Homo sapiens: one gene and its partners. The protein of the gene in region 1 purifies or fractionates together with the protein of each later gene. This does not show direct contact. Each region holds a gene or a part of one and is shown in the gene's direction. Other genes may lie near its edges.

The links.
Region 2: the proteins of MN1 (region 1) and SMU1 purify together in Homo sapiens (affinity purification with mass spectrometry, with the first as the bait; one large-scale study listed by BioGRID). This does not show direct contact.
Region 3: the proteins of MN1 (region 1) and PADI6 purify together in Homo sapiens (affinity purification with mass spectrometry; one large-scale study listed by BioGRID and IntAct). This does not show direct contact.
Region 4: the proteins of MN1 (region 1) and PKNOX1 purify together in Homo sapiens (affinity purification with western blotting; one study listed by BioGRID). This does not show direct contact.
Region 5: the proteins of MN1 (region 1) and E2F7 purify together in Homo sapiens (affinity purification with mass spectrometry, with the first as the bait; one large-scale study listed by BioGRID). This does not show direct contact.
Region 6: the proteins of MN1 (region 1) and KCTD5 purify together in Homo sapiens (affinity purification with mass spectrometry, with the first as the bait; one large-scale study listed by BioGRID). This does not show direct contact.
Region 7: the proteins of MN1 (region 1) and ANAPC7 purify together in Homo sapiens (affinity purification with mass spectrometry, with the first as the bait; one large-scale study listed by BioGRID). This does not show direct contact.

The regions. Positions count from the first base shown.
Region 1 is NC_000022.11:27,798,957-27,803,131, reverse strand, and holds the start of MN1 (transcriptional activator MN1), read left to right. Parts: upstream 1-1,375; 5' UTR 1,376-2,588; coding exon 2,589-4,175. UniProt on the Homo sapiens protein: Transcriptional activator which specifically regulates expression of TBX22 in the posterior region of the developing palate. Required during later stages of palate development for growth and medial fusion of the palatal shelves.
Region 2 is NC_000009.12:33,043,470-33,045,674, reverse strand, and holds part of SMU1 (WD40 repeat-containing protein SMU1), read left to right. Parts: 3' UTR 1-2,205. UniProt on the Homo sapiens protein: Involved in pre-mRNA splicing as a component of the spliceosome. Regulates alternative splicing of the HSPG2 pre-mRNA. Required for normal accumulation of IK.
Region 3 is NC_000001.11:17,396,196-17,399,197, forward strand, and holds part of PADI6 (inactive protein-arginine deiminase type-6), read left to right. Parts: intron 1-875; coding exon 876-946; intron 947-2,490; coding exon 2,491-2,652; intron 2,653-3,002. UniProt on the Homo sapiens protein: Structural constituent of cytoplasmic lattices, which plays a key role in early embryonic development. Cytoplasmic lattices consist in fibrous structures found in the cytoplasm of oocytes and preimplantation embryos.
Region 4 is NC_000021.9:43,012,562-43,016,061, forward strand, and holds part of PKNOX1 (homeobox protein PKNOX1), read left to right. Parts: intron 1-506; coding exon 507-677; intron 678-3,500. UniProt on the Homo sapiens protein: Activates transcription in the presence of PBX1A and HOXA1.
Region 5 is NC_000012.12:77,041,570-77,045,069, reverse strand, and holds part of E2F7 (transcription factor E2F7), read left to right. Parts: intron 1-274; coding exon 275-433; intron 434-1,870; coding exon 1,871-2,005; intron 2,006-3,500.
Region 6 is NC_000016.10:2,685,523-2,689,022, forward strand, and holds part of KCTD5 (BTB/POZ domain-containing protein KCTD5), read left to right. Parts: intron 1-3,500. UniProt on the Homo sapiens protein: Its interaction with CUL3 suggests that it may act as a substrate adapter in some E3 ligase complex. Does not affect the function of Kv channel Kv2.1/KCNB1, Kv1.2/KCNA2, Kv4.2/KCND2 and Kv3.4/KCNC4.
Region 7 is NC_000012.12:110,390,209-110,393,708, reverse strand, and holds part of ANAPC7 (anaphase-promoting complex subunit 7), read left to right. Parts: intron 1-3,500. UniProt on the Homo sapiens protein: Component of the anaphase promoting complex/cyclosome (APC/C), a cell cycle-regulated E3 ubiquitin ligase that controls progression through mitosis and the G1 phase of the cell cycle.

The DNA.
Region 1 (4,175 bases):
GGGCGATAAACACTTTCTTTTGTGGGGGGGGAAAGGCATTTTCATACACCACGCTTAATTTTATTTAGATTTAATAGCGATATCAGGGGCACTTCAAAGAAAGTTCTTTTTTCGCCCTTCTCCTAAGAATGCGAATCTGCTAGCAAAATCGCCTCGTGCTATTTTATGGCAAGGAAAATTAAAGGCCTTCTCCCCCCTCCTTCCCTACACACACTTTAGGGAGGAACACACACACACACACACACGCATGCACAAACACACGCACGCAGGCGCGAGCACACGCACACAGGCGCACAGAATAAACACCTCTATCCTCCATCACCTCTAACTTCCAACTTCTAATTGCAAGATAGATTTCAGCCTCTGTGGGGATCAGGACGATCTAAACATTTTAACTAAGATTATTGGGATAAATATTTCATAAAGAGCAGGGCAGATATTAAATTACTCCTATTGATTTTAGTATCACAGCCCAATTCCATTCCTCGGCCTCTTCAGTTTAATTGATCTCTTAAGGAGGCCAACTTCGCACCCGCAGAGGGTCTGGGTCTTGGACCGGGTGGCCCAGGGCAAGGTGTGCGGCCCGGCGGGTGCGCCCTCTTCGTGCGTGTCTTCTCGGGGTTCCCAGCCGCCTCGCAAGTCGCTCCGGTTACTGGGCTCAACCGATGTGCTCCCCCATAAAGTGGCTGAGTGACTGTGACTCCTTGGAGCCCACGCCGGCCGGTGAGAACCGGGAACCCCAGGCAGTGGGGAAGGGGAACAATTGTGAACGCCCTAGTGACGGAGGAGTGAGCAAGCGCCCAGGTCTCTCGAGGAGAACCCTAACTTCGAGGTTCCCCGTCTGCTTTACCCTCCAAGAAAATCCCAGGGCCGGCTAACTTGGGCGCCGCTAGCGGAGAACGGAGTGTTCACCCCGGAGCCGAAGTGCAGTAGACACTTAGCGACTTTCCGTGGCGAGTCTAGGGTCTTTGCCTGGCGACCTCATTGTCTGAGCGCCCCGTACCGCTCACCGCCCACCTCCCCGCCCCCTGCCCACCCGGTGGGTCTCGCTCCAGTTGGGGGTGGGGAGTTGGGAACAGTGTGAATGGGAAGGGGGTGAACAAAGCCAAGCTCCCGCCATTCTCCTCCGCCTGCACCCTCTCCAGCTCGATGCGCCCGGAGGCCGGGGCGCGCCCCCAGCGCACTGACGCCGGACCCCGAGGAGAGGCGGGCGCAGGGGACCCCAGAGCTGGGGTAGTGCGGGTTCGTGGCGGGGGCTTCGGCAGCCAGGACCCCGGACCACCTTAAGAGCGAGCCCCGCCCCGAGCCCGGAACTTGGGCGGCGCTGATTGGTGCAAATGTAATGGCTGAAATTGATTGCTGAAATGCAAAACTTGTTGCTGCTTCTCCCGGCGCTGGGCGAGAGGCAGACACAGAGAGGGGAGCCGAGACCCTCGGAACGCCCCACGCAGAGCCCCCCCGCTAGTCGGGAGAGGGGTGCGCAGACCCCCCAGAGCTGCCCCCGCGCCCCCCTCCCCCCATTCCGGGCTCTGAGAGCGCAGCGGGAACGCCTTAGCCTGCTCGCCCGGCGTGGCCCCCCGACCCGCGTACGCCCCCCTCCCTCAGGTCCGAGAGGGACTCGCGAAGCACCTCAGCGCGGAGGCAGGGAACCGGAGCCTTGGAGCGACCCAACCCCTCGTCTCGCTGCCCTCCCGCGCCTGCAACGGTGCGCGGAGACTCCGGCGAACTCAGACACCCAACGGCGGAGAACAGAAGCGGCAGGCGGCGGACGTGGCCGCGAAGCTGCGCGCCGAACGCAGCGCACCCGCTGCCGAGCAGAGGAGCCGCGCCTTTCCCCGACCCTCGGCTCCAGCCCCCGGCGCCTGCCGCCTCGCAGCCCCTCTGCGTCCTCGGCTCGGGGGCCGGCACCGGCGATGCCGAGCGGAGCCTCCAGTCCTCCGACCCGCTGAAGAAGCAGCAGCCGCTCGCCCGGAGCCTACGGGGATTGTGCGAGCGGATCGTGCTCGGTGGAGGCTCGGGCTGCGGGGCGCGGGGACTCCGGGGGGCGGGGGGAGGGACCGCTCTGTCGGTGCCCGGCGCCAGCCGCGGCTTTGAAGGGTCTCCCTCCCCTGCCCTTAGCAGCTCTGCCACGGACTCCGGGAGGCTGCGGGCGGCGTCCTGAGGGCTCCCCAGCAGACCCAATCGGACTTGAGAAGGTGATCGCTCTGCTCTCCCAACCCCCTTCCCTCCCCATTCCCCCCACTTAACTTTTTGTCTCCGTTCATCCGCGGCTTCGTCCCCTCCCCGCAGACCCACCCGCGGCTGTGACAACCGCCCGGGGCATGGGCCCCCCAACACGGCTCCTAGAGGCCCCGCGGCCTCGCAAGATGTGAGAGGCCCTCCCCGGGCAGAATCGGAGCTTCAGGAGAGGAGCTAATACCCCGCCCCCCGTCCCTCACATCAGGCGGGGTGGAGGTGCGCGCTGAGCCCCCGCGGTGCTGAGCGTCCCGGAGCGCCCAATCCTGGGCTGGAACGAGTAGCTGGCCGGAGGCGCGCCGCGGAGAGCCGGCTGTCATGCCCTATTGATCCCCCTCTGCCCCCCGCCAAGTATGTTTGGGCTGGACCAATTCGAGCCCCAGGTCAACAGCAGGAACGCTGGCCAGGGCGAGAGGAACTTTAACGAGACCGGACTGAGCATGAACACCCACTTTAAGGCCCCGGCTTTCCACACTGGGGGGCCCCCTGGCCCTGTGGATCCTGCTATGAGCGCGCTGGGCGAACCCCCGATCTTGGGCATGAACATGGAGCCCTACGGCTTCCACGCGCGCGGCCACTCGGAGTTGCACGCAGGGGGGCTGCAAGCGCAGCCTGTGCACGGCTTCTTTGGCGGCCAGCAGCCTCACCACGGCCACCCGGGAAGTCATCATCCCCACCAGCATCACCCCCACTTTGGGGGCAACTTCGGTGGCCCGGACCCCGGGGCCTCGTGCCTGCACGGGGGTCGCCTGCTCGGCTACGGCGGCGCAGCCGGAGGCCTGGGCAGCCAGCCGCCCTTCGCCGAGGGCTATGAGCACATGGCGGAGAGCCAGGGGCCTGAGAGCTTCGGCCCGCAGCGACCGGGGAACCTCCCGGACTTCCACAGTTCAGGTGCCTCCAGCCACGCCGTGCCGGCCCCATGCCTGCCGCTGGACCAGAGCCCTAACCGAGCCGCCTCCTTCCACGGCCTGCCGTCCTCCAGCGGCTCCGATTCCCACAGTCTGGAGCCACGGAGGGTGACGAACCAAGGAGCCGTCGACTCGCTGGAATACAATTACCCGGGCGAGGCGCCCTCGGGACATTTTGACATGTTTTCGCCCTCTGACTCCGAAGGGCAGCTGCCTCATTATGCAGCGGGTCGCCAGGTTCCTGGGGGCGCTTTCCCGGGCGCCTCGGCCATGCCCAGAGCTGCGGGCATGGTGGGCTTGTCCAAAATGCACGCCCAGCCACCGCAGCAGCAGCCCCAGCAGCAGCAGCAGCCCCAGCAGCAGCAGCAGCAGCATGGTGTGTTCTTTGAGAGGTTCAGTGGGGCCAGAAAGATGCCTGTGGGTCTGGAGCCCTCAGTGGGCTCCAGGCACCCGTTAATGCAGCCTCCCCAGCAGGCCCCGCCACCCCCTCAGCAGCAGCCCCCGCAGCAGCCGCCACAGCAGCAGCCGCCGCCGCCACCCGGGCTTCTAGTCCGACAAAATTCGTGCCCGCCTGCGCTCCCTCGGCCCCAGCAGGGCGAGGCGGGCACGCCCAGCGGCGGCCTGCAGGACGGAGGCCCCATGCTGCCCAGCCAGCACGCGCAATTCGAGTATCCCATCCACCGGCTGGAGAACCGGAGCATGCACCCTTATTCCGAGCCTGTTTTCAGCATGCAGCATCCTCCTCCGCAGCAGGCGCCCAACCAGCGGCTGCAGCATTTCGACGCGCCCCCCTACATGAACGTGGCCAAGAGGCCGCGCTTCGACTTTCCGGGCAGCGCGGGAGTGGACCGCTGCGCTTCGTGGAACGGCAGCATGCACAACGGCGCTCTGGATAATCACCTCTCCCCTTCCGCCTACCCAGGCCTACCCGGCGAGTTCACACCGCCTGTGCCCGACAGCTTCCCTTCGGGGCCGCCCCTGCAGCATCCGGCCCCGGACCACCAGTCCCTGCAACAGCAGCAGCAGCAGCAG
Region 2 (2,205 bases), on another chromosome or scaffold:
GGGGGTTTTGCCATGTTGGCCAGGCTGGTCTTGAACTCCTGACCTCAGGTGATCCGCCTGCCCTGGCCTCCCAAAGTGCTGGGATTACAGGCATGAGCCACTGCGCCCAGCCTTGTAATTTACCTTTGATGGTGACCTGAAATGCAGTATGATCCTATATGTGGCACGTAGTAATGTTCAGTGTTTGCTGAATTAATTCTGGGCAGCACTAAGAAATCCCTCTTTCCCAGTCATATTCTATAACACATTTCCCATTTGCCACAAAACCTGCAGCTTTTTGGTCCAGGTAATGACATTTGCTGCCATTTTGATGATTTAAAAATGGTCGTGGGAGTTGAACATAGTCATGAATTCAGGATTCCTGAGCATGTAGACAGTCATCCCAGTGGAAAGACACGTTCACTTAAGAGAAGTTTAAGTTAGAGGAAACAGTTTATGCTAAAAAAATTTTTAGAAAAGTCCTTGAGAATTTTTGATTTAGTCTTGACCTCATGAAGCTGGTAGTTATGATGTGCATAGTTTGTATCACCGTTTATGAAGATGGAGAATCTAGTCAGCACGTGTTGGTTTATTCTAGGAATTTTTAGGGAACACTTCTGTTGCTGGCACCAGGTGATGAATATGGTTAAAAAAAGACTCGTTTCTGCCTAAACATAGGGAAGAAGAGCAAATTAAAAGGAGTAATTAAAACTGATAAAAGCTCAAGTTACCTTTGTGATGATGAGGCGGGCAGTTAACGCGAAAGGGTTGGGAAAGGCTTCCTGGAGGGACTAGGGGGCGGTCTAAGCACAGGGAACCTAACCGGGGACTCCAGTGTGGCACAGCGGCAAGGTATGTGCTGGGCAAAATGATAGGTGTCTTGGGAGACCAGGCAAAGAGAGCTGGATTAGGAGCCGTTAAGTATATATTTTTCTTCTTTTTAAATAAAATAATGCACTGGGTGAACATGTAAACGCTAAGTTGAAAATCTGCCTTTCCCAGGTAACCCTTGTTAATCTTTCTACAACTTCATTTCGTACAAACCTGAAAAACACACTGATTTTGTCTTTAAATGGGCACACGCTGCTTACACTCCTCGGCGCCTAGCCTTTCTGAAGCCCCACGCGGCCGTCCCTCCAGCATTGAAGGCTGGGGCAGCCCAGCTCCCCTCCAGCGCCCTTACAGCCAGACCGCGGCGGGGTCGGGCCGCGCACGCGCAGGGCGGACGGCCGGATCTGGGGCGCCGCTGCTCCGGGTGGTCGGAGGTAGGAGTCCCATCTTGGGTCCAGGGCCGGTAGAGCCCCTTACCGGGGGTAGGGAGACTGCGCACCCGCTAGAGCCAACTGTCAGGGCCTGCAGACGTCGGGTGACGTCACTGTTACAAAATTGGCGGTCACATCGTCTTAAGGGCCGGTGGCAGCGGCTGCGCGAACGGGAGTTGGCTGCCGGGAATCAGTGCTCACTTCCTTCTGAATTGGGCGTGTGCAGTCGGTTCCTAGGGAAGTGCTCTGCTGCAGCCACCAGATTTAACGGATGCTGCTCTCTAGCACTTAACATAGAAGCTAAACTACCTGGCGTTAAAATTAATTCCATGAGCATAAGGACATTTGTCCTATCCCCTATTCTGCTGTTGAATTAATGACTGGAAAACATTGCGCGGAGGTATTTGGGAGTAGTATGGCTTTTTTTTTTTTTTTTTTTTTAACAGCAAATGGTATAAATCTCAGGTACAATTCAGTATCTTCTTCACCAGTTGTTTTTTTTCAGCATGTATTATTACTACCACTAACGGCCTCTGTTGAGCCCTTCCTTGCTATGTAAGCAGCCATATTTAATTCTCAGAACAATGTAATGAGGGTGCGCAAATGCACATGAAGAAACAGGTTTCCAGACGTGAGGCACCTAACTCAGTCCAACTTGCACGAAGCTCGCATTGAAAACCAGATGTGACTCCGAAGCTAGGTTTTTTTTCTCTCTTGCCTCACTCTCAATATTGCTGTCAGTTCCTCCTCAATCTTTAGGTTTGGGCAGGGACAAAGAATACATGGATTGTTCCTCCACATGCTGCAAACACATTCACCTAAGCAGAGCACAGGTAGTGAGATGAGTAGAGAGAACTGAATTAGAGGATTCTGGATGTCAGTCTTTGCTGTCACTTCTTTTGGCTTGTGCTAGAACAGTGGTTCTTACAAGTGTCACGTGATAGACACATTCTAAGGTCCTATC
Region 3 (3,002 bases), on another chromosome or scaffold:
GCCAACATGACGAAAGCCCATCTCTACTAAAGATACGAAAATTAGCCGGGCATGGTGGTGCATGCCTGTAATCTCAGCTACTCGGGAGGCTGAGGCAGGGGAATCGCTTTAACCTGGGAGGTGGAGGTTGCGGTGAGCTAAGATCGTGCCATTGCACTCCAGCCTGGGCCACAGAGCAAGACTCCATCTCAAAAAATAATAAAGGCTGTAGGAACCCAGAAAGGGGCTGGGGGTATTAGGTTTTTCTAGACCCTCAATACTCAAAGTGTTATCTGAGGGCCAGCGCACCTGGGAGCTTGTTAAAAATGTAGAATTTCCACCCTGCTCCACACCTCCTGGATACTCAGCCTTTGGGGTTGGGGCCCGGGAACTCCTGGTCATAGAAGCACCATGGAAGGTGACATCTGCTGAGCATGAACCACATGACAAAGACTATCACCTCAGAGCTGGCAAATAAATTGGGCATCCCTGTCCCAAAGATCAGGCAATTGAGGAACAAAGGTAATGTAACCTGGAGAGGGTCACAGGCAGAAAGTGCCAGGTTGTATTGGCATAAGGGGAGTAGGGGCTGAAGTCATCCTAACAAGCTCTAGGCTGTGTCCCTCAGCCTGGCACAGGCTATTCCCCCTCATGCTGGGGACAGAGTGGCCAGTGGCAGTAAGTCCTGCCTGGGAGTTCTGGTGTAGACCCTGGTCAGTCCCCAGAAGGAAGATATTGGACCTGAGGGTGTGATCCCTGGAGATAGGCCAGTCCTCTCGCCATGGTCACTGGCCCAGGAATGCACCCAGGTGGCTGGGCCTGGCCCGAGTGTGCCCAGCTCTGGGCAGTGCTGCCATTCCCTGACCAGCAGGCCTGCTGCCCGCTTCTTCCTACAGGAAGGGAAGCCAAAACCATCGACCAACTTCTGGCTGATGAAAGCCTGAAGAAGCAGAATGAATACGTGGAGGTAGGACCAGTGTGAAGGGGGCCATCCCCAAGAAAGAGCTGGTGCCGCAGGTCTTGCAGGAAGGTTTCCACCCACCCCTCCTGAGGGGTGAAGTGTTGGGCGGCGGGGGGCAGCTGCCTGCCACCCTTTCTTCCAGGTCTTGATACAGGCCCAGGTCTGGGGCTAGAGCTGGCCATATGCCAATGTAGGGAGACTAGAGGAGTAAGGAGTTAGGTCTCTGGAGTCAAACACAGCACGATGTACCTTTATGCTTGGAAGAGGGCTGGAAGTGGGTAACACAGCTTTCTATGGTGTCAGATGGCTGAGGACCCAGGGTGGGACAGGGGCAGGGAGGAGCGCCATGGCATGTCGGGACCGTTGACAGATATTACTTGCAGATACTGTCAGAGGGAGTTTACTTTGCTATGACTATGCAGCTGGATCTTTTCCCCCAAGCTGGGAAAGCCCTGATTATCCAGGTTCCTAGCTGAGAGCCAATGATGGCCCAAGCATTTTGCGAGATACCTCACTACAAACCCTGCAGATAGCCCTATAAAACTACAAACCCTGCAGATAGCCCTATAAAGTAAAACACCTCTTACATATGAGGGTAGTGAGGCACACAGTAAAACCGCTAGCCCAGGACAATCATTTGGGAAAATGAGTCTGAACTCCCAAGTTCATGTGTTGCTCATTATACTCAAGCTGCCTGGGGTCCATTTCCCGGAAAATGACATAGCTCCGCAGCCTCCTTGAAGAAGCCGGCTCCTCACTTCCGAGAAGCTGAGTATCAGACTCAAATAGACGAGGGACTACTCAATGCTTTCTGGATGAAGTGGCCCATCACAGCAGTCCCGAGGATGGTGTTCAGGGTCACCAAACTTCAGAGATCTTAGAAGTGAATCATTGGCTATAAGAAGCAGAGTCTCCCCAACTTGTAGAAGGAGAAGCTTAGGCCCAGAGAAGGGTAATTTCTTGGCTGAGGTTGCATGGTCAGCAAAACTGCTTCTCTCACTGGGTCCTTAACATTCCCAGGAATGTTCCCAAGGAATGTTCTATGCCCCGCACAGTGCATGGGTACCCTGTTTTGCAAGAACAGCCCCCCTGGCATAGCAGGGTGGGTGCCAGCCAGGCATGGGGCTGAGACAGCATCTCCCAGCCCCTGGCGACAGCTTAGGTGTGTTGGGTATGTGTCTGAAGCCTATTTCAAGACCTAGGGAGACAGGTGTGTTGGGTTATGTCTGAAGCCTATTTCAAGACCTAGGGAGATGCCTGGGTATTGGGCTCAGCTGGTCTGGGTTGAGAAGTGCCAGACGCTGTCTAGCCATGGGATCCTGGACTAAAGACTAGGCCATTCCTGAGCCCCTACTTCCCCATGTGAAAAGGGAACTGCCTATTTCGTAAGGCTGGTATGAAGTGTGAGGCTCCTGGCACACAGCAAGTGATGGGGATGGTAGTGGTGTCAGGCCATCACCTACCTTCAGTATGGAAGGAAACTGGTTTTAATTCCTGATGAGCTCTCCTTGCTCCCCCGCCCCCCCCCCCACCCACCCACCCACCCACAGAAGTGCATTCACCTGAACCGTGACATCCTGAAGACGGAGCTGGGCCTGGTGGAACAGGACATCATCGAGATTCCCCAGCTGTTCTGCTTGGAGAAGCTGACTAACATCCCCTCTGACCAGCAGCCCAAGAGGTCCTTTGCGAGGCCATACTTCCCTGACCTGGTGAGGGGCGACTGCGCATCCCTGGGTGGGGGAGGGCCTGTCCAGGCAACACTGGCTGCCACCTCACTGTGCTGGACTGCAGATATGGTGGACAGCAGATAACGGTACCTATGAGGAAATGGGAGGGAGACCCCTTCTCCCCCATCTCGGTTAGGGACGCCCCACCCAGAGAGCAAGTGTACAGGGCCTGAAGGCTTGGAGGTTCCCCAGGCAGTTACTATGGGCCAGGCCCTGGGCCAGGTGCTTTAGGAGCCTCAGTGAGCTGCGCCCCCAGTCTAAAAGGGTGAACCTGTGAGGCCCACTTCGGATGGGGTGCTATGCAACCCAGAGTCGAGGTTGCCGCGCATCTG
Region 4 (3,500 bases), on another chromosome or scaffold:
TGTCTCAAAAAACAAAACAAAACAAAATGATATAACTTTTAGAAAAATCGCAAGAGAAAATCTTGAGGATCTAGAACTAGGCAAAGACACCAAAATGGAACTTTATGAAAATGTAGCACTAGCCTAGGGTGAGTGTGGATGTATCACTATTTGTGGATGTAGAAACAGGAGTAGATGAGGGTGAGTCACTTGTCCTGCCTGCCACAGAGCGAATCAGTGGAAGGGCTAGGCTTTGGCTCACAGCCCACACACCTAGCACTGGGATGCACCGAGGTCACCACCACGCGCCTTTGTCTTCCCTGCACACCAGATGCAGCCAAACACCAAAGCCCAGGTCAGTGGCACCGGAACAACACATCAGTTTAGAGGATTTCTGATGTTATTCCACTTTGGTTATTGGCAGTAGAGATGGTTCTATCTAATGACTAAGAACTGGTATGTAGGATCATGATAACTTACAATAATGCCACCTTTTTCTCTGAAAGTCTTCATTTTCTCTGCTCTAGATGGTAAAAGCAATCCAGGTTTTGCGCATTCATCTTCTTGAGCTGGAAAAGGTTAACGAACTCTGCAAAGATTTCTGCAGTCGATACATTGCTTGTCTGAAAACAAAAATGAACAGTGAAACTCTGTTGAGTGGAGAGCCTGGAAGCCCGTACTCACCAGTGCAGTCCCAGGTACTTACATTTGGGGGTCTCGCTTTCCCTCTCTGCCACTGTGAACATCTGCATTGAGTCATGAGACCACCAGCTCTTTCAGAATTCACTGGGTCATCTTTATGACTTTCTACAAGAAGGACCCTCTAGGTCTCTGACCCCAGCCTGGTTTGGGAATGAACTCCCTCAGATTATGAAGTGAGTCCTCAATCTGCATACTGGGCCCCCGGTCCCATGTTTATGGAAGGCACAATTCCATTCATTTCTTTCTTTTATTTCTTCTGAAAATATTTTACTTATTCTTTTGAAAAATTGTGTAAAATACACATAATATAAAATTTACCATCTTAGCTATTTTAAAATTTACAGTTCAATGGTGTTAAGTTTATTCACATTGTTGGGCAACCATCAACACCATCCATCTCCAGAACTTTCTCATCTTCTCAAACTCAAACTCTGACCCCATTAAACACTCATTCCGGATTCCCCCTCCCCTAGCCCCTGGAACCCACCGTTCTACTGTCTGTCTCTGTGAATTCGATGACTCCAGGTCTCTCATGTTAAGCGGAATCGTACAGTGTTTGTCCTTCTGGATCCTTTGCTTGTTTCATTGTGCAGAATGCCTGGAGGGTTCATCCATGCGGAAGCACTATTGTGTTTTAGCCATTCTGATGATATGTAGTGATATTAATATTTCTTTGTGGTTTTAATTTTCATTTCCCTGATGGCTAATAATGTTGAACATTATTATACCCTCTGTGTATTTTCTTTGATAAAATGTCTGCTGCTTATGTCTTTTGCCTTTTTTTTTTTTTTTTTTTTGAGACAGAGTCTCGCTCCATCACCCAGGCTGGAGTGCAGTGGCGCGATCTCGGCTTACTGCAAACTCCGCCTCCTGGGTTCATGCCATTCTCCTGCCTCACCCTCCTGAGTAGCTGGGACTACAGGTGCCTGCCACCACACCCGGCTAATTTTTTGTATTTTTAGTAGAGACGGGGTTTCACCGTATTAGCCAGGATGGTCTCGATCTCCTGACCTCGTGATCCGCCCGCCTTGGCCTCCCAAAGTGCTGGGATTACAAGCATGAGCTACCACGCCTGGCCGTCTTTTGCGCATTTTTTAGTTGGATTTTTTTTTAACTTCTGAGTGTTGAGAGTTCTTTGCTTATTGTAGATACTAGTTCTCTGTTGGATATGTGGTTTGCAAGTGTTTTCTCCAAGTCTATAGTAGCTAAGTATTTTTCTCATCCTCTTAACAGGTCTTTTTCAGAGCCAGCCTTTTTAATTTTAATAAAGTTCAATTTATTAGGTTTTCCTTTTATGGATCATTCTTTTGGTGTCAAGTCTAAGAACTCTTTGCCTAACCCTAGGTCCCAAAGACTTCGTCTTAAGTTTTTTCCTAAAAGTTTTTAAATAGAGACAAGGTCTCACTATGTTGCCCAGGCTTGTCCCAAACTCCTGGGCTCAAGTGTGAACCACCATGCCTGGCCTCAAAAGTTTTATAGTTGTCCATTTTGCATTTAAATCCGTGATCCATTTTGAGTGGATTTCTCTATAGAATAACTCTCAAAGCTGGGCACATTGTTTCCTCCCACCCTGTGATTCCTTTTCAAAATTGTTTAGCTGTTCTGGTTCCTTTGCCTGTCCACATAAATTTTAGAATGCTCTTGTCTAGAGCTACAAAAACATCTTGCTTAGATTTTGATAGGAATTGTATTATACCTGTATATCAATCTGGGGAGAATTGACATCTTTACTGCATTAAGTCTTCCAGTCCACAGGTATGGCATGTCTCTCCATTGATTGACAACTCTGATTTCATTCATCAGTGCTTTGTAGTTTTTGACACATAAGTTGTGTACATGCGTTTTTAGAATTATACCCAAGCATTTCCTTTCCTGGCCTGTGCCATCTCGAATAAGAGTGGCAAGAGCAGACATCCTTGCCTTGTCACCGCCTTAGGGGACACCTTTCAGTCGCTCACTGTCGATGATGTTGGTTGCAGGTTTCTTTCTAGATGCTCTTTATCAAGTTAAGGAGGTTATCCTATATTGCTTTTTTTCTGAGAGATTTTATTTTGTTCAATTTTGTTAAATGCTTTTCCAGCATTGATTGATATGATTATGTGATTTTTCTTCTTTAGCCTGTTAATAATGGACATTACATGGATTGGTTTTTTGAATATTGAACAAGCCTTCTATTCCTGGAATAAACTCCACTTGGCCATGGCACATAATTCTTTTCATATGTATTCTTGAATTCTATTGGCTAATATTTTGTTCAGCATTTTTGTCTATATTTGTAAGGGATATTGGTGTATAGTTTTGTTTTTCATACTGTCTTTGGTTTTGGTATCAAAATACACAAACTTACATAAAATGGATTGGGAAGTATTCCCTCCTCTTATTTTTTTCTGGAGATTATGTAGACTTGGTGTTATTTCTTAAATGTTTGAGAAATAGAATTGATCTATTTCACCTAAGATGTTAAATTTAGGAGTTTAGAGTTGGTCTAGTATTCTCTTCATAGCCTTTTGGTGTTAGCAGGGTCTATAGTGATCTCTTCCTGTTTTATTTCTGATATTGATCTTTTGTGTCTCTATTTTTTTTTTAGTCAGTCTTTCTAGAGGTTTATGTAATTTTCAAAGAACAGTATTTTGTTTTATTGATTTTTTTGGTTGTTTTTCTGTTTTCAGTTTCATTGATTTCACCTTGATCTTTATTATTTCCTTTCTTCTGCTTTCGGTTCATGATGTTCCTCTTTTTCTAAGATCTTAAGGTGGAAGCTGGGATGATTGATTTGACTAGCTTAACTTTTATTACAGCCTAATTAATGTGGCAGGCTT
Region 5 (3,500 bases), on another chromosome or scaffold:
CTATTATAGGAAGTATAAGTGTAAAGCATTGAGTGGTTTAAAATATGCATCTCAGAGTTTATGCCTACTGTAGAGTAATTTTACAAGCCACAAGAAAATCTGCCTCATTTCTTCCTGAGCTGACTTCTGTGATGTGTATCCAGTAAGCTTCTGCCAATGACAAGGGTGATCTTTCCATCTGCTGATAGGGCTAGATCATTTTGGCAAGCTGCAAGTATAGTCTTTCTTGTAGAAAATCATATACTTTGATGCTTTTGTTTCATTCCTTGTGTAGCATCTGCAAACAGTAGAAAAGACAAGTCTCTGAGAATTATGAGCCAGAAGTTTGTCATGCTGTTCCTCGTCTCCAAAACCAAGATTGTCACTCTGGATGTGGCTGCCAAAATACTGATAGAAGAAAGCCAAGATGCCCCAGACCATAGTAAATTTAAAAGTAAGAATCTTCACCTCCATCAACTTACTAGCACATAAAGGGTGGGATTTCATGTGTTGATATTTTCTGCTTCCAAGATTAAAAATATATATATTGTTTTTGACATACATACTCCTTTCCTGCATTCATCAAGGTTTTTGGTGCTGTGAGAGGTAAGTTAGTCACCTACTAGAATTCAGCTTAGAGTCCTGTCAGTGCCTTTTCCTCGGTGGTTTCAGTAGAGTGAAAAACAGAACACTATCCTGAGAACTCCGGTCAGGGAGGGTGTGAATTATTTTGCATTTCTCTTTAGTATTGCTGCATCCAAGACAGAATGTCTGAGTTTTCTTTCCCCTTTTTTCCCCACCCCCTGCATACTCTTCTGAAGGGTGGAGATGAAAATTGTCTACAGGTAAGAACCAGAAGAATGGCCAGGGTAAGGGTGGTGGGACATGGACAGGGAGAGAGTTTCCAAGTATCACACCCAGTGCATCCTCCTTTTCTGTCCATCTTGGATACTGAGCCAAATGCCCTGGGCTGCTGGTAGCCTGTAAGCCCTGGGAAACCATGAGCTGCAACATCTGGCTATTTTTTGTTTCCAGCTGAAATTACAGTCACCCTATGGGTGAAATAGCTAGATAAAATCAGGATTGGGAAGAAGAAAGCTGCATCCAGGGTGAATGCTTCCTATTTCTGGATGATAATTCAAACTCCTTTGCTTGATCTTAACACTGAGGTCAAGTGGGTTTCCTACCTGTAAATCAATTTCTTGAATAGAAAATACTTTGTGGTCATTATCGTGCCTGTCTCATGTGCTACCACCCCTTCTGAGTATTTCCTGTACTTTGTATATATTTAAGTGTTTCTCCCAAAGCCACTTAAGATTCAGGCAAGGCCCATCCAACCCCTTCTCACTGGGTGGCTAGAATGCTACAATTTCAGGTGAGGAGCTGCCTGTCTTTAGTACAGTTGTACTGTTGACCTTGAGCATCCTGTGTGCCCAGGAGTGCAGCCTGGCAGGAAGCTCTGGGGAATCTTTGTCATTTTCACAGACCAGCTGCCTTGTGGAGCTGGCGCCACAGTCTCCTGCTTGGAGAAACTCAGGGCATGCTTTTGACGTGCCATGTCAGAATTACATTTACTAAGCTTTTAATTACAGCCCATTCCCTCCCTTGGTGTTTTTGCAATCACAGTGCTCCCTGTTTGTCGCCAGGTGCCTCTTGTAAGAGGTGTGAAGTTGTGGAAATGGAAGGACACACTGACCTTCCCTTAGCCTTCAGATACTGCAGGTACATAAATCCTGGGTGATTTTATGACAGAGCCACTGGTCTCCTCATCCCAACCTGCTGCTTTCCACCTGAGGTTTATATGGCAGCCGAGAAAAGTTACCTGTCACATAAACTAAACTGTCATGGTGTCACAGGCAGCATGACCGTAATCGTGTTTTATATCTTCAAGCAAAGGTACGACGCCTCTATGACATAGCCAATGTTCTGACCAGCTTGGCTCTGATAAAGAAAGTGCATGTAACAGAAGAGCGAGGTCGTAAACCAGCCTTCAAGTGGATCGGGCCTGTGGACTTCAGCTCAAGTGGTAAGGTGGCGTGGTTTTGCTAGCAGGCTGTTTTATTTAGAATTCTCAGTTCCTTTTCCAAGTCTCACATCTACTACACAGTGAGACTGATCTTTTTCCCATGTCACATACAAAATAGACTAGTGACTCCACTCTTGGAACAGTTAACATTAGCCTACAAATTGTGCATGCTGGTTTGCCCACACATGGTAGGAAAGGAAATACTGAGTGTTTATAATATGGGAGTTTCTGTAACTACTAATTTGCAGCTCTTTGTTCTGAAGCTTTTTCCTGAAAGTTTGGGACCGAGAATTAAAAATGACACCTCTTTTGAACTCCAGTTGTTGCTACATTAGCAGAGTAAAACGTGGTTTCTCTTTGAAATTCTACATAATGTAAAAACTGTAAGTAAAATTATGAGTAAAAATCACATCAGTTACCATCACAAAACAAATTACATCTAAAGATGTGGTTAAGATTGCATCTAAATATAGTATGGATGTAATGGACTTTTTGTATTTAAAAGGTTATAAATATCATAATTTTACAAAACTGGAGTCAAAGAGGATATTAATCTTCTACTTATTTCATGGGTAATATATGAGCAATCAGGGACTAGATCCAACTGCACCAGCTATTTTACATATAGCTGTACTGCCTGGGAAAAAGCCATTAAAGTCATTTTTAAATTACCCTTCCAATTTTGGTGTTAGTGGTGTAAATGTGAGCCACTTAACCCAGGCGTATAAATATATAGCTCTCCACCTCACTTGTAGCACATTATTCACTTAGGATCTAGATGAAACCACTTAAAATCAAGTATAACAAATTCAACCCAGTGCGTATGCACTGAGTGTGGACTGTGTGCCAATGACTATATTAAGGGCCCTGAGAGATTGAAGATGTGGGTAACACAGTCCCTACCTGCATGAAGCATACAACTTTGCCTTTTTCTCCTTTCTGCCTCTGATTTCTCCCGTTCTTTTCACCTGTGAAGCCCTCTTCTTAACATGAAAATATTCTCAACCTTCAAGATCTGGCTCAAATGTCAACTCCTCTATGAAGTTTTCCTGATAGCCCAGAGCAGAGTGTCTCATCTGAACAACTGCAATTGAGTATTGTGCTGTTTGTGCTGGGTGAGGTAGATATGGTGGTGTCGTCCCTGCCCTACACATTTGAGACCAGACATTATCTTTATTTATCCTTGATTACCCCATAGTATCCAGAACAGTGCCTTACTCACTTTAGTTGGTTAATGAGCTTCTATAATTAGGCATATAGTTAGCATACATTTGAAAGTTAGGAGAGCAATTACATGCTAGACGGGGTGGTACTGGCTCTGTAGGCATTCAGAGAGGATACAGATTAAGTTCTGATGGGCTGTTAGATTTTGGAGGCATGAAGAGAACATGGGATAGAAAATAATGAGATACAATGTGATCAGTGGGGACTGCATTTTTGGAAGGCCTCAAAAATTGAGGCAAGAAATTTGGACTAGATGTGATAGACAGAATTA
Region 6 (3,500 bases), on another chromosome or scaffold:
TATTAGTCACGTTACTAAAGTGTTTTCCGGTGTTTTTCATCAAATGAGGAAATGTGTAAAATGCTTCATCTTAGTTTTGTCTCCAGTGGCTCTGATGAAAGAATGTCCCAGGAGATTCCTCCTAATTAAATGCTGACTGAGGAATCTGAGGAGGGGGGGAAGGGGTGTCAGGAGTGGGAGGCCATTAATGACACGTTGGAAGACAAACAGGATGTTGATTCACCTGTAAAGATCTCCAAGGCCTGACCTCAGAGTTGAGATTAAGGAAAGAATATTCCTCGAGTTGGACTTAAGCATGGATCTGGTGGAAGAGTCCCTGCCTGGATTATTAGACTTGTGTGGAGTGAGCACCTGGGCTTGCAGAGTGTGGGGGTCTGGAGAGGAGTTGGGTGGGGAGATTTAAGGGGGAGGAGTTCCCAAGAAACCACAGAAGCTTTGGGTGCCTGAGAGGTTGGGAGAGCACCCTGCTAAAGCATCCTATCTGGTAGGGAGGGGAGCTCTTGACAGACGGGTTGTTAGGGAGGGTGGTGAAAGCCACGCACATCAAGGGGCTGGCTTGATTGCCCTCTGGCCCCACATCTAAGCTTCTGGGCTGTGACTGCCCCCAACCAAGTCCTCAGAGCCCAGCTTGGGACCCACCACCCGCCATACTCCACGCTCCCAAGCCCTTACTCTGCTGTTCCAAGGGCCGACCTGCTGCCACAAAGTTCTCTTTCTAGACAGCCCGGTGTGAATTCTCACTTCCTCCTGGGACTTCCTCCAGCAGGACTGTGGCTGTGGTGAGCATTTCAGCATCTGCTCATCTGCTGTTCTGTCATCTTTCTCTTCCTTGGTGTCTTCGAGGGCAGGCCAGGTGGAATACGGCTTCCCAAAGACTCGATTCATTTTGGTTAGGTCTCTTGTATTGCATGGTCCCCGGCCCATAGGCATTGTTGAAAACAAAGTCGAGTTTGTTGTTTCCAGCTAAAGCAGCCCCTGCTTTAGTGTGGAGATACTTGAGGAGTTAAAAGGAAACAGGAAATACTACTGCTTTATGGTTGGAAACCACTCAGATGGAGGAGAATTTGGGGAGGCTTCGGTTCCTGCAGCTGAGGCAGCCTTGGAGAAAACTGCACGTGAACTTTTGCCCTTTGAACAGGGCCGTTGTCCCGGCTTGAGGGTTCCAGATGTGGTGGCATCAGATGGGTCTTTGAGGGGTGGGGCAGTCAGGGTGCCTCTAACAGTGTACTGGGTGTTGGCAAGACCTCGGGGGTGGAAAGTTATGGAAGGAATTGTTCAGACAGGGCCCAGTGATGGGGTGTGGGCTAGAGTACCGTCTTTGAAGCCGCTTGGCAAGAGAAGTGGGGATCACGTCTAGTGGAGATGGCAGATGATGTTCTGTGTAGCCAGCACTGGTGAGAGCTATGGTGGCCTCAGTTTGAGGCCGTTAGTGGGTGTCTGCGACGCTGATGGACTTTGTTTCACGCTTCAGTTGAGGATGTGGCTCTGAGCACGATCTTCGCTCTGACCACAAGTCATCTTCTATTCTGGACCTCTGCGATGGTCCCTGCGGTGCTGGGGGCTCCCCGCTCCTTCCCCACTGCAGCAGGTGCTGGTCCTCAGCAAACCTGTGCTCACCTCTTTATCAGGTGCCTCACCTGAAGCCCTTTAGACCTTAGGCCACGAGTCAGTTCCATAAATTCCTGAGAAAAGGACTCGACTCTGGTGATGAAATGGAACGTTTCTGATGGGTTCAGTCCTACCTAGGAAGAATGAAAGAAAACAGTTTTGAGGCTTTCTGAGAAGAGCTTGTTTCGGGGCACCTGACATGGGCCCGCGGTCTTCGGCATTCTCGCCTCCAGACTTCTGCGGGTGGCTGGGAGGAAATGCTGTCGCTGCAGGGCAGTTCCTCTTTCTGGCCCTGCAGATACAGCCTTCAGTGGCTGTCGTCCAGCAGGGCAGTGACTAGTCTTGGTTTAGAGCAGGAGTCAGAAAGCTGGTCCACCTGCCTGTTTTTGCAAGTAAAGTTTTACAGGAATGCAGAGATGCCCATTTGCTTACGGATTGTGTGTGGCCGTTTTTGCTCTGAAAGGTCACGGAGTGAGGTCTAAAGCCTCGCCAGGGCTGTGGCCGTGATGGGGGCGCCTGCTGCCTGGTCTCGCCCCGGCCCTGTCGTTAACCACCAGGCATCCCAGGGACTCCTTTTCAGACACTTGTAGGCACTTTGGTTCTTTTAGCAGCCCCCCTCCACGCCCCAGGTAAGCAGTCCCCAGGCATGGTCTTTAAAGCCTGGGGAAGAACCTGCCTGCCTGGCGCCATGGGAGGGGTCCTTGTAGCAAAGGTGCCAGCAAGCCATCTCTCTCCCAGGACATGCTTGTTCTCCCTGGGCGTCAACTCGGCAGTTCTCCATGGACTGCAGAATGTCTAGAACATTCTGGCCTGGGGTTGATGTGACAGAGCATCTTCCTTGGAGTTGGGGAGCCTGGGTTGGAATCTGCCCACCTCTGGCCTGCCTTATGACTTGGGGTGATTTCGTGCCCCTGTGAGCTGTGCTTTCTTCCTCTGTAAAGTCCTTACTTTACTGTGACGTCCTCTCCTGAAGATGACAAATGTGATGCCCCCGCCCCGTACCTGGTGCCAGGTCAGTGCAGTCAGGAGAGGTTGTGCCTGGCGGTCTTCATTTCATGTTTGTACTTGGTTTTTATTATTAAATAAATAAATAAATAAATATATATATATATATATTTATTTATTTATTTATTTATTTGAGACGGAGTCTTGCTCTGTCCCCCAGGCTGGAGTGTGGTGGGGTGATCTCGGCTCACTGCAACCTCTGCCTCCTGGGTTCAAGCATTTCTCCTGCCCCACCCTCCCAAGTAGCTGGGATTACAGGCACGAGCCACCATGTCTGGCTGATTTTTGTATAGTCAGTAGAGAAGGGGTTTTGCCATGTTGGCCAGGCTGGTCTCGAACTCCTGACCTCAGGTCATCCGCCCTCCTTGGCCTCCCAAAGTGCTGGGATTACAGGTGTGAGTGTACTTTACTTTTAGGAAGGATATGCTAAGAACGCTTTTCCCCTCCCGCAGCCACACTTAATTTCTGTTAATGTCGACCTCTGGCCACACTCAGCCCTGTCAGCCTCGGGTGATGCACCGGAGGTCCCTGAAGGCAGCATGTATGGCCAGGAGTGGCTCGCCCTGCCAGTCCCCCTGCTGCCACCCAGAGCTCTGGCTGACCCTAGCAGCACAGGCCCCCGCTGAGTGGGTCTCCACCTCTGGGGACTGGACCCTGCACTGTGGGGAGGGCAGGGCTTCCTGGGCAGCCCCCGAGTTTTCTTGCAAGAAACCTGACACCCCTGCTCCTGAGAGGGCTCCAGTTCCTGCCGAGCAGAGCAGGACTCTCTGCAGCGACCTCGGCTTGGCAAGACCCCCCGTGGTTCACCTGAAGCATGTTTCTTCCCCGAGAAGCCGCAGGACCTCTTGTGAGGGGCCAGGTCGTGAGTCCACACACGTCTGCTTCTC
Region 7 (3,500 bases), on another chromosome or scaffold:
TTTAGTAGAGACTGGGTTTCTCCATGTTGGTCAGGCTGGTCTTGAACTCCCGACTTCAGGTGATCCACCCACCTCGGCCTCACAGAGTGCTGGGGTTACAGGTGGGAGCCACCATGCCCGGCCAATTTTTTTTTTCTTTTTTTTAAATAGAGATGGTCTCCACCATTTGCCCAGGTTGGTCCCAAACTTCTGGGCTCAAGTTGTCCTCCCCCCTTAGCCTCCCAAATTGCTGGGATTACAGGCAGGAGCCACTGCACCTGGCCTCCTTGTGTTTGTTTTTGTTTTTAAGTGAAAGTGAGTTTATTAATAAAATAAAGGAATAAAGAATGGCTACTCCATAGGCAGAGAAGACTTTGATATTTCTTATTATAGGAAATAATGATTTATTTGCAAAACACTTCCAGGTGGCAAAAATACTTTTTTAGAACTTCATTTTTTGCCTTCCATAGGTGTACACATTTGGTAATGGGGGTGGTTTTATTCCTTTGTTTTGAAAATTAATACTGTAAGATTCTTTTATCCTTATTTATGTGTAGAATATGTCTTTGTGTTTGATTTGGCAGCATATTATAGTGAAGAAAACACCTTTAACTAAAATCAAAAGATCTGGTGTCGGCTGGGCATGGTGGCTCATGCCTGTAATCCCAGCACTTTGGGAGGCCGAGGTGGGTGAATCATCTGAGGTTGGGAGTTCGAGACCAGCTTGACCAACATGGAGAAACCCCGTCTCTACTAAAAATATAAAATTAGCCGGGTGTGGTGGCGCATGCCTGTAATCTCAGCTACTCTGGAGGCTGAGGCAGGAGAATCGCTTGAACCCAGGAGGCAGAGGTTGCGGTGAGCCGACGTGGTGCCATTGCACTCCAGCCTGGGCAACAAGAGTGAAACTCCATCTCAAAAAAAACAAAAAAACAAACAAAAAAAGATCTGGTGTCTAGTTTGAGTTTAGGTGCATACAAGCTGTGTGCAGTGTGAACTTGGGCAAGTTACCAATTTGTGAGCTTTACTACTTTTTTATTTATAAAATGAGAAGAATAGTATTTTTTCTGTTACTTTTATAAATACCAAATAAATTCATGAATGTGAGAATATATCAGTATTTAATATTCTAATAATACTGTCATGTCTCCTGCCTTGCTCATTTTATTGAAAAACTGTTTTGTGCAACTTGTGCTTAACAATAAGGAATTTTATAGGTAAAATGACAGGTGCATCCTCCTGCCTTTAAAAGATACGAAATCTAAGCAGTAGGGGCCTGGTGTATTTTAGTTAGTGCTGCTTCATCCAAGTCTTGCTGAACTTTAAAAGTAACCAAACTTGATGAGAACATGTTTAAGCACCTCCTCATATTAAGGTATTATTTACTATTTTCTGAGTTTTTGAAGCTATTTCTTCAGTATGATGGTGGCTGCTATTAAAAACACTTGAAAGTTTATTATGAATTAACCTCTCTCATCATAAGCCTGGATGCTGTATACTAAATCCTGTTCTGGTAACCTATGAAAGTCTTCTCTTACTCCAAGAATAATCTTGTTGCACAGATGAAGAATGTCTGCTGCAATGCTCAAGGTATCTTCCTTTTGTAAGAAGCCTTTTTTTTTTTTTTTTTTTTTTTTGTGAGGTGGAGTCTTGCTGTGTTGCCAGGCTGGAGTGCAGTGGCACAATCTTGGCTCACTGCAACCTCCACCTCCCGGGTTCAAGCGATTCCCCTACCTCAGCCTCCCGAGTAGCTGGGACTACAGGCGTGTGCCACCACGCCCAGCTACTTTTTTGCATTTTAGTGGAGACGGGGTTTCACCATGTTGGCCAGGATGGTCTCGATCTGACCTTAGGTGATCCGCCTGCCTTGGCCTCCCAAAGTGCTGGGATTACAGGCATGAGCCACCACGCCCGGCCAAGAAGCCATTTTAATTATAAACTTTGAAGGATACTATTCCTTACTTTATTAGAAATATACCATAATCTCCTTCATAATGACCTGTGGATATTTGTAGGACTTTTTTTTGAAAATAGTAATGTTAAAGCATCTCAGCTTTATAGCATCCACTGCTTGATTTTCATTGCCATCATTCTTAGAGCACCTGTATGAGTCTGCATTTGTCAGCAGTACATATCCTTCATTCTGTAGTGCTCTTACAGCTAGGAGCAAAGATGTGTGCCTCAAACATAAACCTATAACATTTACAGTTTTTCTTTCTTGTCTGTTAGGGAGTTAACTGGCTTCTCAGTCTATGTAAAGGACAAGGAAGTGAGTCAAAATGTGTCTAAATGAATGTCTGTTAATATATGGTAAACATCGCCACATATTCCCTCACATTTTAAAGGAAAATTCCAGTGTTAGATTATTAAATCTTGGTAAATCTTCACCTTTTAAGAGTAAACATACCAACATAGAATTTCTTACTCAGTTTTTAGAAAATGATGACTGCTTGTGTTTATAACTGGTGGAATGTGGCTTTATGATGTTTTTAAGTGAGTATCTATTTTTAAAATAGTTGACTTTTTTTGTTTGTTTGTTTGAGATGGAGTCTCTCTCTGTTGCCCAGGCTGGAGTGCAATGGCATGATCTCAGCTCACTGCAACCTCCACCTCCTGGGTTCAAGCGATTCTCCTGTCTCAGCCTCCTGAGTAGCTGGTACTACAGGCGCGTACCGCTGCACCTGCCTAATTTTTTGTATTCTAGTAGAGACGGGGTTTCACCATGTTGGCCAGGCTGGTCTCGATCTCCTGACCTCGTGATCCACCCACCTCGGCCTCCCAAAGTGCTAGGATTAGAGGTGTGAACCACTGCGCCCGGCCAATAATTGACTTTTTCATTAGGTATTACTCAAAACTCATTCTTTTAAAGTGACAGTCAAGTAGCTTAAAGGAAATTTTGATATTTGTTGAGAAAGATAGTCCATCAGTCATAGTTTGTTAATATAACCAGCAGTCAAGAAAGGATCTTAAATTTAACTTTTTATTCTTTACAAGTATTGACATCAATCCTGGAGTTTTCCTTTTAAGTATTTTTCTTTGCATTTTCAAAATAGTAGCCTAATATGGAAAATCTGAGGCCAAGTAAAAAATAGTTTTATTTTTAGTATTTCATTATTCCATTGTTTGAATTAGTGTGAATCAATGCTATATTAGATTGTTTTATATAATGTAGGTCTATAATTGGAACAGATGTTCTTTATCTTTAGAGCCACTCTTTCTATAAATATCTGGCATACCAAGCCACAGTTAAATCGAAGAGATTGGGGGTTGACCTTTTTTCTTTTGTGCCCTCACATTGACTGCTTCCTTAGGTTAATGATCTAGCAAATACTGTTGTGTTTAAAATCTACTAATTTTGCCAGACACGGTGGCTCACGCCTGTAATCCCAGCACTTTGGGAGGCCGAGGTGGTTGGATCACCTGAGGTCAGGAGTTCAAGACCAGCCTGGCCAACATGGTGAAACACCATCTCTACTTAAAATACAAAAAAAAAATTAGCTGGGCGTGGTGGCGGGTGCCTG